2 linked regions of the Homo sapiens genome follow. The protein of the gene in region 1 purifies or fractionates together with the protein of each later gene. This does not show direct contact. Each region holds a gene or a part of one and is shown on either strand. Other genes may lie near its edges.

Region 1 (4,516 bases):
AAATGTCCAACAATGATAGACTGGATTAAAAAAATGTGGCACATATACACCACGGAATACTATGCAGCCATAAAAAATGATGAGTTCATGTCCTTTGTAGGGACATGGATGAAGCTGGAAACCATCATTCTCAGCAAACTATCGCAAGGACAAAAAAACAAACACCGCGTGTTCTCACTCATAGGTGGGAATTGAACAATGAGAACACATGGACACAGGAAGGGGAACAGCACACACCAGGGACTGTTGTGGGGTGGGGGGAGGGGGGAGGGATAGCATTAGGAGATATACCTAATGTTAAATGATGAGTTAATTGGTGCAGCACACCAACATGGCACATGTATACATATGTAGCTAACCTGCACGTTGTGCACACGTACCCTAAAACTTAAAGTATAATAACAAAAAAGAGAGAGAAATTTCTAGTGATTGATTTCCTGCTCACACCACACAAAGGCATCACAGCAGGAGGGCAGGAGGGTGTGTATTGCTTTGTCTGGGTGCTTCCTTCCCTTTCTATTAAAAATGGGATTGGCTCAGGCTGCACAGCTAGATTTGAAGTGGAAAACTTGAGCCTAGAGGTTGGGGGGAAGTGACCACTCACCCTGATCATCTGTCTCTTCTTTTCCATCTTCTTCCCCTCCTGGAGCCCCAGAGCAAAGAACTCTCAGTACCTGTCCGATGCATGATTGGCTCTGGACACTCCAAAAGCTACTTGGAAAAAGTTAGGCTATGTAATCATCAGGTCAACCCATCAACATGTGGGTGGCTACACATCACAGAAAGCTTGCTCCTCGTAGAGAGAAAATGTGAGTCTTGGCCATATTTATAGCTGCACTCATAAACAAGACTCAGGTTTGGGAGTGAGACAGGCTAGAGAACAGGTGCAGCAGTTGCTTTTCCCCAGGAAATCCTCCAAAGGTAAGATGCATTGAACTAGGTTTTAGGTACCTATGCAGTGAACATGGTGGTGATGGGAGGGGCTGAGGGGAATAGGTCTTGTTTAGACTTGCTCAATGTGCAACTGAAACAAGCCTACTGGTTGTCAGACATGCAGGGGGATCAAAGCAGGGTTTCCTTATGTCCCTGCTCCCCCATAACCAGAACACAGCCTTCCAGCTTCCTGTGCCTTCCAAAGTCAGAATTTACCTGTGCCCTTGAACTGATACAAAGAAAAAAAATAATCAGCAAAACTCAGAAGGAAACAGAATCCCAGGAATATTTCCAGAGGTGCCTGAACATTCACCTGGAACACAGAGCAGAGTTCCTGCAGGGCTACCCTCCTGTGCTCTGCCCCAGTCAGAGTGCAGGGAGGCGTGGGGAGGTGACACAGATGGATGGCAACAGCCCTGGGAAGGAGAGGTGGGCTGGGAGCCAGGCCTCATGACCAGTACCAGCTAGACTCCCTAGGTACAAATAGCCCTGGGCTCTGCAGCTCCACAGGCTCCTGGGGTGGAGTCCAAATCACTCATTGTTTGTGAAAGCTGAGCTCACAGCAAAACAAGCCACCATGAAGCTGTCGGTGTGTCTCCTGCTGGTCACGCTGGCCCTCTGCTGCTACCAGGGTGAGTACATCAGTCATGAGTCTAGCTCCAGCCCCTGGGAAGCACCCTCTTCCAAGCACGAGGTCACCTATTCAGGCTGGGGTTAGGATCTGCACAAAACCAAAATTCCAAACCTTTTTCTGTGCTTGTTGAACAAGCCCCTCATCAAGTTCAGAGCTATTTCTTCTACTCCCCAGCACCTACGAAGTTTTATTGAAAATCAGTGCAGGCAAATATTAGGAATTCTTCTGCCTGAGCTTCACTCCTGGGTGGGATCTGTGTCAGATGATGTAATGTGAGGTCTGGGGTGAATCTGGGATCCGCCACTTCCCAGCCCTTTGACCTTGGGCACAATGCTCACCCTCCCTGAGCCTCCTCCTATCACTGGTAGTTAGCGCTTCTGCCAGGAGAGGCTATGAGAATGGAGTAAGAAAGATTAATACTGTCAAAAGAGTCTAGCTGTGGGCTAAGCATGGCGGCTCATGCCTGTAATCCTAGCACTTTGGAAGGTCAAGGAGAGTGAATTGCTTGAGCTCAGGAGTTTGAGTCCGGCCTAGGCAACGTGGCGAAACTCCAGCTTTACCAAAAGAAATATGAAAAATCAGCTGGACGTGGTGACATGCACCAGTAGTCTCAGCTACTTAGGGGGCTGAGATGGGGATATCGCTTGAGCCCAGGAGGTAGAGGCTGCAGTGAGCCATGATTGAGCTACTGAATTCCAGCCTGGGTGACAAAGGGAAAAAAAAGAGTTTGGCTGTTGATATGAAGTGCTTTCCTTTATTGTGAGAGCTTGAGGAAGTCACACCTGAAGGGTCTGGCATTGTCATCAGCACAACAAATGTATGTGAACATATAACCCAGGGGATCCTGTCTGGTCTAACGTCAGGGAGCCAAAGAGAAAAATCGACTTTCCTAACATCAACTATATTTTTATTCTTTTGCTGCAGCCAATGCCGAGTTCTGCCCAGCTCTTGTTTCTGAGCTGTTAGACTTCTTCTTCATTAGTGAACCTCTGTTCAAGTTAAGTCTTGCCAAATTTGATGCCCCTCCGGAAGCTGTTGCAGCCAAGTTAGGAGTGAAGAGATGCACGGATCAGATGTCCCTTCAGAAACGAAGCCTCATTGCGGAAGTCCTGGTAACTTCTTTCTCCTTTATTTGTTAAGGCTTCTGGTCAGCTGCACAGTATGAAGTGAGGTCAGCTTGCTGCTCTGTTGGGGACACAGGTGGTGGGGCAGCTGCCTTGCTGGTCACCTCTTGAGAAGGTCACCTGGGGCCACAGGGTGGGTGCCACCATTTCACCTGCAGAATTCAACTCAGCTGCACACAGCCTCCTGCATGTTCCTCCTTCTCATGTCACCTGCCTGGATGCCATGTCCCCAGAGTGTGCTGAGGACATGGGGAGTGAGCCTGGGCCCAGGCAGAAATGGTAAAGGGCCAAGCATGGCCGCCTCGCTGCTGGGAGCTTTCCTGAGACCAAACTGCCCTCATGTAATGGACACAGTCACTGTGGAATGTCCTGGGGAGCATGGGAGCCTTGAACAGGGAGAGGAAGGCAGGGAGGGACATAGAGCAGGGGCTCCTGCAGATGTAGCACTGGCAGGCTGGACTTCTCTGCAGCTTCTGCAGAGCCAGGAAGGAGCCCCTCCCAGCTCCTGAGACCCCATACTCCCCTCCACACCCACGACACTCTCCTGACCATGGCCAGTCGTCCAAGACCCTAGCTAGTCTACCTCCTGCAGTGCCATGGAAGCGGGATGTTCTCACTCTGTCTTTCTCAAGAAATCAGAGGTTTTCCAGGGGCCTCTCTGCCTGGCTGCCTCTGAGTTGCTGTCCTGAGGTTTAGCTGCAAATGCTCATGGAAGCTGCAGGCTCGGGACTGAGAGGTGCTCGGGCCCTGAGGCAGAATTCCCACATGGGGAGGCTGGAGTCTCCTGGAAGCCAAGCTTCCCAGAAGCCCTCTCAGCCCTGACCAGCCTCTCAGTCCTGGGTCCCTCACTGCAGGAACCAGGAGACTCCAAGCCCTGGGACAGCCCAGGCAATAACCTCTTGCTGCTCTCTCCAACCCTCGTCACTTGCTTCCATGAGGATCCTGGGCCTCATTCCCGGATCACCCCAGGGCTATTGGCCTGGCAAGAAAAGGCTGCTCCATCACCGGCATGGGTGCTGTGAGGCCACCAGGTCTAGGCCTCAGTTTCCCAAACTGAGTTGTTGCCTCTGCCCTTCCAATTGCCTTTGGGGGCAGAATCCCACTGGCCTCTTGGATGTGAGCCTGTCACCTCCAGCAGCAGCATGACTGACCCCACCTTCTTTTTTCTTTTCCTATTTTAGGTGAAAATATTGAAGAAATGTAGTGTGTGACATGTAAAAACTTTCATCCTGGTTTCCACTGTCTTTCAATGACACCCTGATCTTCACTGCAGAATGTAAAGGTTTCAACGTCTTGCTTTAATAAATCACTTGCTCTCCACGTCTCCACTGGTCTTGTTATAATCCTGCAGTCTCGAGCCTTGAGTACAGGGTGGTTTCCATAGTGGAGTGGCCTTTTGCTGTGGGTGATAATTAACTCCAGAGAACCAGCATCCTGTTACTAATGGGGCCTGAGTCCAGGTGTCACAGAGGAGAATATTTGGTAGGAATTATCCTGCATTCCTTACAGATTTCCCATCTTGCAGCCGTGAATAAAAACCATGGTAACAAGGACACAGGAATTGAAATGTTCCACTGGTCTTACACTGAGAGAACCCCCAGCCTGAATGGGTATCCAGGCCGAGGGTTCCCACCTATCAGTGACTTTACTCTGATGTCCCCTCAGACCCACAGTCAGCCTGCTTGGTGCTCTCTCTGCACTATGCTTTCTGTCCTCCGTCATGTCCAGTATACTTCATTTTCCACTTATCACAATTTGGGGTCCTCTTTAGGTTTCAACCTGGAGTTCACATTGTTTTACTCCCCACGCTCAGAGCACTCCTCAG
Region 2 (3,813 bases), on another chromosome or scaffold:
CTTTGAGGGCAGAACATTTATCCCATAGGCATTCAGTTTGAAAATCACTCCAGAGGCTTGGAATAAGAGAGGACCAAGACCCTGGGCAAAAGTAAATGATAATGGAATAGTAACATTATGGAAATAGTAACAGTGAAAGTAGTAATAATGGAATAATAATTAAAAATAGTAATTATTTAATAATTAAAACATTAAAATAAAAACAATAATTATTATTTAATAATAATCAAAAATAATAATGGAATAGTAACAGTGAAAGCAAATACTCAGCAAAAACCATGTGCCAGGCTCTCTTCTAAGCACTTTACATATTAACCCATTGATCCTTATAACACCTTAGGAAATGGTAAAAGACTAGTGGTTGGAAGACAAAATGACTTCTCCTTGCCATACCCAGCAGAAAAAGAAAATATGTTTGTAGACCCTCTTTCAACTAACAGAGATGGGTAATCTTTTTTAAAAAGAGAAAGTTGAGCTAGTTGAGATATGTGCAGGGTGGTCTGGGGAGACAGAGAAATCTGAGAGTTTGTGGGGCAGTGTGAGGCTACAGGGTATGTTGGAACCACTGGAGTCCCATCTGGGTCCTGGGCTACAATGATGCCAAAGATCAAGAGGGACTCTTAAAGCCGAGCCCTAGCAAAGAACCAGGGATATTCAGAGTGGAGGCAAGACAGAGAAGGGTGTTGAAGCCAGGTCTGCAACGGAGAATTGCCTTAAGGTCATTTGGAACCAGGCCGAAAAGTTTCACCAGCTAGGGTGAACCTAAAGTTATATCAGCCAGGCGCAGTGGCTTATGCCTATAATCCCAACACTTGGGGAGGCCAAAGTGGGAAGCCCAGGAGTTCAAGACCAGCCTTGCCAACATAGCGAGACCATGTCCCTACAAAAATGTGAAAATTAGGCAGGCGTGATGGCACGTGCCTGTAGTCCCAGCTACTTGGGAGGCTGAAGTGGGAGGATCACCTGAGCCTGGGAGGTTGAGGCTGCCATGAGCCATAGTCACGCCACTGCATTCTAGCCTGGACAACAGAGCAAGACCTTGTCTTAAAAAAAAAAAAAAAGTTTATTTTAAGAAGTTAACTGTGTCAAGGAAGAGCTGGCTGGAACCTAAGATAATGTTCAGGAAGATCAGGTTAAATGGTAACTAGGAGACAGAGGTCAGAAACCCAGGATGAGGCTCTTCTAGACAAGGATCCTAGAGAACAGCAACAGTATAAATGGCCCAGTACTATCTAAGGTATCACTGGTCTACCGCTGCCCAGGACCAAGTCTGTTTTCAGTGTGGAACGACAGCAAACCAATGTAACTACAGGGACAGGTGAAGGAACAGGAAGAGGCTGTTTAGAGACTAGAAATTCCTACAAGTTCCTAGAAGTCAAGACCAAGCCAGGATCTCCAGACCAAACACAGAGTTGCTACTGAAACCAACAAAACACATCTCAAAACAGTCAGTGGCCTAGCCTGCCTCAACCATGAAGCATCCTATACTTGTCTTCCCTAAACTCCCTTCAGTACCTCTCCGCTTCTAACTGCTGCTGTTCTGGCTTTGTAAAGGTAGCCCTCCATTTCTAAGGTGCAGGCAGTTGGTATGCAGTTGGCTTATAGAATAAGCATGGTCATTTGGATAATAATCTCTATCACATGCATCAGACAAAATTCAAATGATCAGCTTCATGGGATGTTGCCCATTTCCACAGCCACTCAGCTATGGGCTGCTCATCCTCCCTGGATGACCAAGTCCAGAACTCTATGTGGGTATAACATGGAGCAACCCATGTTAGATGGTGGTGCCCCAGGGGCCTGAGCACGTATGGATGTGTAGGCCGTGGATCTAAGAGGAGTTTGTGGAGCCAGCATTCTGGGGCATTTTCAGGTTAATACCTGAGAGTTAGCAGTCTGATCTTAGATCACAAATCAAAATGGGACAAGCAAGAAGGGGCATCAAAATTTGAAGCCAGGAGGAGGCAGAGCCAAGGGAAACTGCTGTGAAGGGAAGGTTGATAGCAATGTTTGGAAGATATGTCCTAGAAGTGTTTCCTAATGGTCAGCATTCTACTTGATAAGCCTAGAGATTTCATCCTAAACCTAGTAAATCAGAATTTGCAAAAGAGCAGCTTGGGAACCTGTGTAGTTTTTGTTTTTGTTTATCACTGTGCAAGTTTCAGAAACATTGCTAGATGAAATGGTTGTCAACCCTGGCTGCACATTAGAACCAACTAGAAAGACTTGTAAAAAAATACTGGTGTCCAGATCTCACCTCACATCAATTAAATCAGAATCTCTGAAGGTGGAACTAGACAGCTATCTTTTCAAATGTTCTCCAGGACATTTTGATGGTATATGAATGACTTGAGAGTCATTGTCTCAGAGAAATCTCCAGTGTCAGGATCCAAGTTTTCACCATAACTTTTTTTGTAGGGCCAGCTTCTGGCTGGGATGTGCTAAGCAGTTAAAGGAACAAAGGCCAGAGAGGAGTTGGGGTAGATTGCTTTGTTACAATGTGTTACCTTGGAGGTATCAATTACACAGGGCCCCTTCATGCCTTCATACTCAGAAAATGTGGGTAATTCACCTCTCCTTCCACAAGTTAAATGGGAGATGAATTGAGAGCCTCTAGGTAGATCTTGGCGGATTCCTCACTGGCTTACCACAGCTGCTACTGCTCTGAGCTTTGGTTCTTCTTGCAGGAAAGAATCAGAAGGGGGCCCAGACCCAGACAGAGGAGGAGATGACCAGATATGTCCAGGAGCTCCAAAAGCATCAGGTGAGTGGCAGCCTCCGTGCTGGTTCAGGTGTTGCTGTTGCCATCAGGCCCTATACCATTCAAACACTGCCCAGTGCCCCAGGAGACCAAGGAGGCTCTCTCTGCTCAATACAGTACATCTTGAGTGATACCCCATCACCTGTACTATCAAACTGTGATACAGACAGTTCCCTGATAAAGTCCTCACAGGGCCCAGTAGGTCTCAACACATATAGGTTACAGCTCGGTGAGTGGCTGCATAAGGCAAAATCAGGCAGGTGGTGATTTGCAAATGAGGTGGAAGTGGTTTGCAAATGAGCGTGGTTTAAGGAAGTGTGTATCCTGTCATGACCAGTGTCCAGACCCAAAGACTGTGAGCTCCTGAAAGCAGGCTCTGTAACTTGCTCATCATTGTACCCTTGCAGTCTCACAGGGCCTGGTATGTAGTCAGCACTCAGTGAGCATGAAAGCAGTGGATTTGGGCCACAGCAGAAAGGATTTAAGTTCAACATCAGTCTGGCTAGAAAATAGCCTGGGGTTAACAAAGAGTCTCCTTCCCAGAGACTCAAGAAGATAATAAGAATTTTGTTCAGGTTCTATGTCATTAAGTTAAAGGCTTCCTTGGGGAAAGGGTTCTTAGCAGAATAGTGATGCTCTGACATATTGTGGAACTGTTGAACTCCTGGCCCATCCTCCTACTGGCTTATTATGTAGTCTTAATACAGGATATTGCACCTTCCATTACCTGTCCGTAGACCGAATGTAGTAGTATTAGCCTTCTCTCTGACATAGAAGTTTTTAAGGAATATAATGGTCACAAGAACTGCTAAACTATTGATATGAAATATTTGACATGAGTAAACAGAACTATTACTATTAATAGTAATTGCCCATTTATTGATCATTCTTAATGTGCATTTTGTCATCATTGTCACTGATAGTATAGAAATCTCATGTCGGTTGTTTAAGCAGAAGCAAAAGCTTCTAGTCTTTTGCTTTTCAAATTTCACCAGTCTTGAGTCTCCAAATGAGTTCAATCCCATGAAAGAGAAAAAAACTTCATAGGAATT

Evidence for each region.
Region 2: the proteins of SCGB1D2 (region 1) and FSTL1 purify together in Homo sapiens (affinity purification with mass spectrometry; one large-scale study listed by BioGRID and IntAct). This does not show direct contact.

Annotation. Positions count from the first base shown.
Region 1 is NC_000011.10:62,240,798-62,245,313, forward strand, and holds SCGB1D2 (secretoglobin family 1D member 2 precursor), read left to right. Parts: upstream 1-1,441; 5' UTR 1,442-1,510; coding exon 1,511-1,565; intron 1,566-2,491; coding exon 2,492-2,679; intron 2,680-3,872; coding exon 3,873-3,902; 3' UTR 3,903-4,015; downstream 4,016-4,516. UniProt on the Homo sapiens protein: May bind androgens and other steroids, may also bind estramustine, a chemotherapeutic agent used for prostate cancer. May be under transcriptional regulation of steroid hormones.
Region 2 is NC_000003.12:120,398,834-120,402,646, reverse strand, and holds part of FSTL1 (follistatin-related protein 1 precursor), read left to right. Parts: intron 1-2,687; coding exon 2,688-2,764; intron 2,765-3,813.